Homo sapiens: one gene and its partner. The protein of the gene in region 1 interacts with the protein of each later gene in a pairwise test. Each region holds a gene or a part of one and is shown on either strand. Other genes may lie near its edges.

What was found. The genes of interacting proteins can lie anywhere in the genome.
Region 2: the proteins of DNAJC5 (region 1) and SNAP29 come close enough for resonance energy transfer, tested with the Homo sapiens proteins (one study listed by BioGRID).

The regions. Positions count from the first base shown.
Region 1 is NC_000020.11:63,898,071-63,901,718, forward strand, and holds part of DNAJC5 (dnaJ homolog subfamily C member 5), read left to right. Parts: intron 1-3,648. UniProt on the Homo sapiens protein: Acts as a general chaperone in regulated exocytosis. Acts as a co-chaperone for the SNARE protein SNAP-25. Involved in the calcium-mediated control of a late stage of exocytosis. May have an important role in presynaptic function.
Region 2 is NC_000022.11:20,875,962-20,879,609, forward strand, and holds part of SNAP29 (synaptosomal-associated protein 29), read left to right. Parts: intron 1-3,648. UniProt on the Homo sapiens protein: SNAREs, soluble N-ethylmaleimide-sensitive factor-attachment protein receptors, are essential proteins for fusion of cellular membranes.

The DNA.
Region 1 (3,648 bases):
GTTAACAATCGTCAGAGCTGGAACTTGAACTCGAGTCTTCTCTAGACCAGGTTTCTTCTAAGTATTTGGCATCACCAGGAAGAGCCCTGTACAAGGTGCTGGTGGTTTTATCCTTAGAGCCCAGATGTGAGGTGCTCACGTGTGTGCCTGGGGTTAGCAGTTGGTGTTTGTTGAATGAATGACTAAAATGCAGTGGGGCGGGGAGTCATGATAAGGTAGAATTTTATCTGAGGTGGAGTTTGCTTCTGAAATCAGGCAGTAAGGTGAATGTGATACCCAGTTAGGAGTATGTAATGCTGCAGGTAAACTGTAACAGCAAATGAAAGCAGTATTTCTCCAGGAAGGAAACAGACCCCTGGGTCCTCGGGCTGGGTTGGAAAAAGCCATTTGTAGAGAAATGGAACATGGTGGCTAGCCCTGCACAAGACATAGAGAAGAGACCCTTAACACTCCAGTTATCTCCAAGTGGGCAGTTAGAATGAGTGCTTCTAGGCCGGGCACGGTGGCTCACACCAGTAATCCCAGCACTTTGGGAGGCCGAGGCGGGCAGATCTTGAGATCGAGAGATCGAGACCATCCTGGCCAACATGGTGAAACCCTGTCTCTACTAAAAATACAAAAATAGCTGGGTGTGGTGGCGGGCACCTGTAATTCCAGCTACTAGGGAGGCTGAGGCAGGAGAATTGCTTGAACCCGGGAGGCAGAGGTTGCAGTGAGCTGAGATAGCACCACTGCACTCCAGCCTGGGCGACAGAGCGAGACTCCCTCTCACAACAAACAAACAAACAAACTGCAGTGCTTCTAAGGTGAGACTCATCGTGATGTTCTGATTAGAACGTTCTCGTGCCACAAAGTCCTGAGATGTGTCCAAGAAGCACCGTCTTCTGTCAGACACACCTCCTGCCCCGCCATAGGCCTTCCCACTGTGGCAGCAGAATCTGTGCTAGGCCTTCCTTCGTGAAAGAGGACAAGATCAGGGCTCACGTGACTGGGGCCGCTGTGACTCTGAGCCTCTGCGTTCTGTCAGATGAGGGTAGTGGTGCTTCCCCTGCGTCCTGCTGGGAGAAAAAAGGAGGCAGTAAATGAAAGGTGTCTCATCACCTGCTTCCTAAATAGAAGGGACAAAGAGGCTGAAAAACAGTAATAGTCTTGTTTTATGAAAATGCCACCCCTAATCTAGGAGCTGGGACTGCCATGCCAGGACCCCTCAGATAATGACATCCCTGAAGAGGATTAGCAGCTAGTCTGTTATCAGTCACAGGCAGTTCAACCCAGAAGATTTAAGGATTAGATTACCCAACAACCTTGAGTGTAGATTTTGTCTCTCATCACCCTTTGCATTAACTTTGGGTGCATGTGTGTTAATGAGGAAGTGTGTTCTGCTTTATTCTTGGTACATCACAGACATTTAATAGATACAGGTCATTAGAAATAAAAATTGTTTTAACTTGTATGAGTTTTGCAAGCATTGATATTTCAAATTGAAATTGCAGAAATTAGGACAGCATTTCATTTTCTTTTGTTTTTTTGAGACGGAGTCTCATTCTCTCACCCAGGCTGGAGTGCGGTGGCGTGACCTTGGCTCACTGCAACCTCTGCCTCCTGGGTTCAAGTGATTCTTCTGCCTCAGCCTCCCGAGTAGCTGGGACTACAGGCGGTCGCCACCACGCCAGGCTAATTTTTTGTATTTTTAGTAGAGACAGGGTTTCGCGGTGTTAGCCAGGATGGTCTCGATCTCCTGACCTTGTGATCCGCCCATCTTGGCCTCCCAAAGTGCTGGGATTGCAGGTGTGAGCCACTGCGCCTGGGCTTTTTTTTTTTTTTTTTTTTGGTTGGGGGACGGAGTCTCACTCTGTCACCCAGGCTTGAGTACAACGGTACGGTTTCCGCTCATGGCAACCTCTGCCTCCTAGGTTCAAGTGATTCTCCTGCCTCAGCCTCCTGGGTTGCTGGGATTACAGGCGCCTGCCATGACACCCGGCTAATTTTTGTATTTTTAGTAGAGATGGGGTTTTGCCATGTTGGCCAGGCTGGTCTTGAACTCCTGACCTCAGGTGATCCACCCACTTTGGCCTCCCAAAGTGCTGGGATTATAGGCGTGAGCCACTGAGCCCAGCCCCAAGTTGGTCTTGAGCTCCTGGACTCAAGTGATCGTCCAACCAGCATCTCATTTTCTAAAGAAAGAAGTACTTAGACCAGGTTTGGGACATGTCTCTGAAAATTCTGGGCTGGTGCAGTGGCTCATGCCTGTAATCCCAGCACTTTGAGAGGCCGAGGCAGGCGGATTGCTAGAGTCCAGAAGTGAAGACCAGGCTGGGCAACATAGCAAAACCCCATCTGTACTAAAACTAGAAACAATTAGCCGGGTATGGTGACATGCAGCTGTAGTCCCAGCTACTCGGAGGCTGAGGTGGTAGGATCACCTGAGCCTGGGAGGCTGAGGCTGCAGCAAGCCATGATTGCTCCACTGCACTCCAGCCTGGGCGACAGAGCAAGACACTGTCTCAAAAAAAAAAAAAAAAAAAAAAAGGAAGTTCTGTATTGATCAATAATTTCCTCCTCAGGACAGACCTGCATATGCCACAATTTAACTTTGTTGCAACATCATTCTACATTTTGCATGAATGGTTTCAAAAAACTTATTTCTATGACAGAGAACTTTGTCATTTATTCTTGACATATTAAACCTGAGTGACATTTTTAAATTTTTGTGTTGTGTTGTGAGTGCTTAGTGAAGATTCCTTGAATATGGATGTGAATGAATCTTATTTTTCATGGGTTTATAATTGTATTGTCCCTTTAAATATTCTACATTGAACATGTATCACCAGCAGAAATAATCATTTACGAGGTGAAGTGTCCAGAGCCATGTAGTGTCTGCATTGCTGTGTCCAGGGATTCTTTGTTTGTTTGAGACGGAGTCTCGCTCTGTCATCCAGGCTGGAGTGCAGTGGCACGATCGTGTCTCACTGCCGCTTCCACCTCCCGGGTTCAAGTGATTCTTCTGCCTCAGCCTCTTGAGTAACTGGAATTACAGGCGTGTGCCACCACGCCCAGCTAATTTTTGTATTTTTAGTAGAGATGGGGTTTCACCATGTTGTCCAGGCTGGTCTCAAACTCCTGAACTCAAGTAATCAACCCACCTTGGCCTCCCAAGGTGCTGGGTTTACAGGCATGAGCCACTGTGCTCAATCTGCGTTCTGAGGCATTCTGTGCCTGTTATGAAATCATGATGCTGGCAGGTCGGAAGATGGAATCGACTTCCCAGCCCCATCGGCTGTGCCCTGCCCTCCTTGCTGTCTCTAGAGCGCGGCTGACTTCGGGGAGAGCTCTCCCTGCCCTGTGCCTCTATTTTTTCACCAGGTAGGGTGGAAATGTGTTCTAGTGAAACTGCAGAACGAAAATATCCCGTCTTACTCTTGACCCTTGAAGAAGCAGGAGCTGAATTCAGGTGCCAGAGGCTGCGTCCGCGCGCTCCACATCAGTCTCAGAGTGGAGGCGAGCCCAGGCCAGAGGCCTCTACCCCGGACGAGGCTGCAGGTGCCTGACGGGAGGAGTGACTGCAGCTCAGCAGAGGGAGTGTGTGGAGTGTGCGGCCCTGCCTGGCTTTTATTTTGCTCCTCCTGTTATTGGGAGGGATTAGCAGCA
Region 2 (3,648 bases), on another chromosome or scaffold:
CCATCCTAGCTAACACGGTGAAACCCCGTCTCTACTAAAAATACAAAAAATTAGCCAGGGGTGATGGTGGGCACCTGTAGTCCCAGCTGCTTGGGAGGCTGAGGCAGGAGAATGGCATGAACCCGGGAGGTGGAGGTTGCAGTGAGCCAAGATCAAGCCACTGCAGTCCAGCCTGGGCGACAGAGACTCCATCTCAAAAAAAAAAAATGCAATAAATTGTGAGTAAAATTTTTGTGATCCTGTCAAAACCTTTAATCCATAAATGCAGGAATACTGTCACTTAAAAACTTTGCCTTTTTTTTTTTTTTTTTTTTAAGACAATGTCTCGCTCTGTCGCCCAGGCTGGAGTGCAGTGGTGCAGTCTCTGCTCACTGTATCCTCCACCTCCCAGGATCCAGCAACCCTCCCACCTCTGCCTCCCAAGTAGCTGGGACTACATGCATGGGCCACCATGCACTGCTAATTTTCGTATTTTTTGTAGAAACAAGGTCTCACTTTGTCTCCCAGGCTGATCTCAACCACCTGGGCTCAACTGATCTTCCCGCCTCAGCCTCCCAAAGTGCTAGGATTGCAGGCATGAGCCACTGTGCCTGGCCCACTTAAAAGCTTTTTTTTTTTTTTTTTGAGATGGAATCTCGCTCTGTCACCCAGGCTGGAGTGCAGTGGCGTGATCTCGGCTCACTGCAAGCTCCGTCTCCCACGTTCACGCCATTCTCCTGCCTCAGCTTCCCAAGCAGCTGGGACTACAGGCACCCGCCACCACGCCCGGCTAAATTTTTTTTGTATTTTTAGTAGAGATGGGGTTTCACCATGTTAGCCAGGATGGTCTCGATCTCCTGACCTAGTGATCTGCCCGCCTCGGCCTCAAAAGCTTTTAAAATAAGTTTCTCCTATCAAACTTCTGTTCAGTCATGCATTTCCTGTGTACATCATTATCACACAAACCCTTCGGCCTTCTCTGAAGTTTTGTCTCTTGGGAAGCCCTGTTTGTCCTTGCTGACAGCTTTCCAAGCTGCTTGTTCTCATTTCCACTTACAGCTCATGCGTTCCTGTCACATATGCACCCTTAATTTGAAATTCTCTAACTTATTTAAGACTTGGTTTCTGACCAGGAACCACCCTCTCTTAAACCTCTACTGTCTTATCACTTTTCTCAGTCTCCCTAGAAATTGGCTTTCTTGGCTGAGCGTGGTGGCTCACGCCTATAATCCCAGCACTTTGGAGGTTGAGGTGGGCGGATCACAAAGTCAGGTGTTCAAGACCAGCCTAGCCAACATGATGAAACCCTGTCTCTACTAAAAATACAAAAATCAGGCCTGGCACGGTGGCTCACGCCTGTAATCCCAGCACTTTGGGAGGCCAAGGAGGGTGGATCACCTGAGGTCAGGAGTTCGAGACCAGCCTCACCAACATGGAGAAACCCTGTCTCTACTAAAAATACAAAATGAGCCAAGCAAGGTGGCACACACCTGTAATCTCAGCTACTTGGGAGGCTGAGGCAGGAGAATCGCTTGAACCAGGGAGGCAGAGGTTGCAGTAAGCCAAGATCGCACCATTGTACCCCAGCCTGGGCAACAAGAGCAGAACTCCCTCTAAAAAAAAAAATTAGCCGGGCGTAGTGGCGCTCACCTATAATCCCAGCTACTCAGGAGGCTGAAGCAGGAGAATCTCTTGAACCAGGGAGGTGGAGGTTGCAGTGAGCCGAGGTCATGCCCCTGCACTCCAGCCTGGGAGACAGAGCTAGACTCCGTCTCAAAAAAAGAAAAAGAAAAAAATTGGCTTTCTTTGTGGGGGAGCCATTTTTCACAAAGAAACCATTGTTTTCCTCATTTATGTATTACCAGTATATATGTGATGGCACATAGAAAGAATAAAGCCAGCGTTGAGATGTGCAGGCTGAAAGGTGGCCAGGCAGACTCAGAAGCCAAGTGTCTCTTCCTACTCCCAGCATGGCAATGCACTGCCCACAGTGGTGCTTAGAGGAGCCAGTTCTGTGTTCTAGACTTTCAGTCACAGCTTCCGTGGGGTGAAATCCTGGAGTGTTAAATCCTTCCATTCACCAGGCTCTGCTGCATTCTACCCATAGCTGGAGCCCTGGGCCTGCAAAACCCTTAGCTTGCGGGAGTCTGGACTTGCTCTTGCAAGTTGGGAGTCATTAAAGACTTTAACTGAAGAGGTGCTTGCCAGTATTGCTTTAGAAAGATGCGCAGCACCCATGGGGAGTAAGGATTGGAAGGGAGGGAATTGAATTGAGAGGCATTGCCATAATCCTTGTTAAAGGTAAAGAAAAGCAAGGCAGGCCGGGCACGGTGGCTCAAGCCTGTAATCCCAGCACTTTGGGAGGCCGAGGCGGGCAGATCATGAGGTCAGGAGATCGAGACCATCCTGGCTAACACAGTGAAACCCTGTCTCTAAAATACAAAATACAAAATAAAATACAAAAACCCTGTACTAAAAATACAAAAAATTAGCCGGGCGTGGTGGCGGGCGCCTGTAGTCCCAGCTACTTGGGAGGCTGAGGCAGGAGAATGGCGTGAACCCAGGAGGCGGAGCTTGCAGTGCGTGGAGATCACGCCACTGCACTCCAGCCTGGGTGACAGAGCGAGACTATGTCTCAAAAAAAAAAGGCAAGGCAGAAGGAGAGGCTGGGTTTCTGGGCTACTTAGGGGGTGGGAGATCAAGAGGGCGTTTGTTTTGCCTGGATTACTGGGAGTAGCGCTGTGCAGGGGGAGGGCAAAAATTGCGAGTAACCCTGATTCCCAGATTGGCTGGCGAAGTGGTCAGGCTGCTGTTGAGATAGAGGAGAGCAGGCTGTTGGGGAGGCACAGCTCCCAGCTGGAGGCACCTGCCATACCTTAGGGGGCTCAGCAGGATGTCGGGGATCAGCAGGGCATCAGGCATAGTCTAAATGACTTTGAGTTGCAAGAGCTATCCCTGTCTACAGCCAGAGTCAGCAAACTAGGCCACGGAGCAAAATCAAAGATATTTTATAGGGACTTACGTGATGAGAAAAAAACATACTTTCACAACTTTTTAGTGACAAAATTTAAAATATAAAAACAGTGGCCGGGTGCAGTGGCTCACGCCTGTAATCCCAGCACTTTGGGAGGCCAAGGTGGGCGGATCACGAGGTCAGGAGATCGAGACCATTCCGGCTAACACGGTGAAACCCCGTCTCCACTAAAAATACAAAAAATTAGCCGGGCGTGGTAGTGGGCGCCTGTAGTCCCAGCTACTCAGGAGGCTGAGACAGGAGAATGGTGTAAACCTGGTCAGCAGAGGTTGCAGTGAGCCGAGATCGTGCCACTGCACTCCAGCCTGGGCAACAGAGTGAGACTCCATCTCAAAAAAAAAAAAAAAAAGTAATAGGCTGGACACAGTGGCTCATGCCTGCATGGCTGTAATCCTGGCACTTTTGGAGGCTGAGGCAGGGGGATCACTTGAGTAGGCACCTGTAATCCCAGCTACTCAGGAGGCTGAGGCAGAAGAATAGCTTGAACCCGGGAGATGGAGGTTGCAGTAAATCGAGATCACGCCACTGCACTCCAGCCTGGGCAACAGAGCAAGACTCTGTCTCAAAAAGAAAAAACAATTTAAGAATTGGCCAAGCATGGTGGCTTATGCCTGTAATCCCAGAACTTTGGGAGG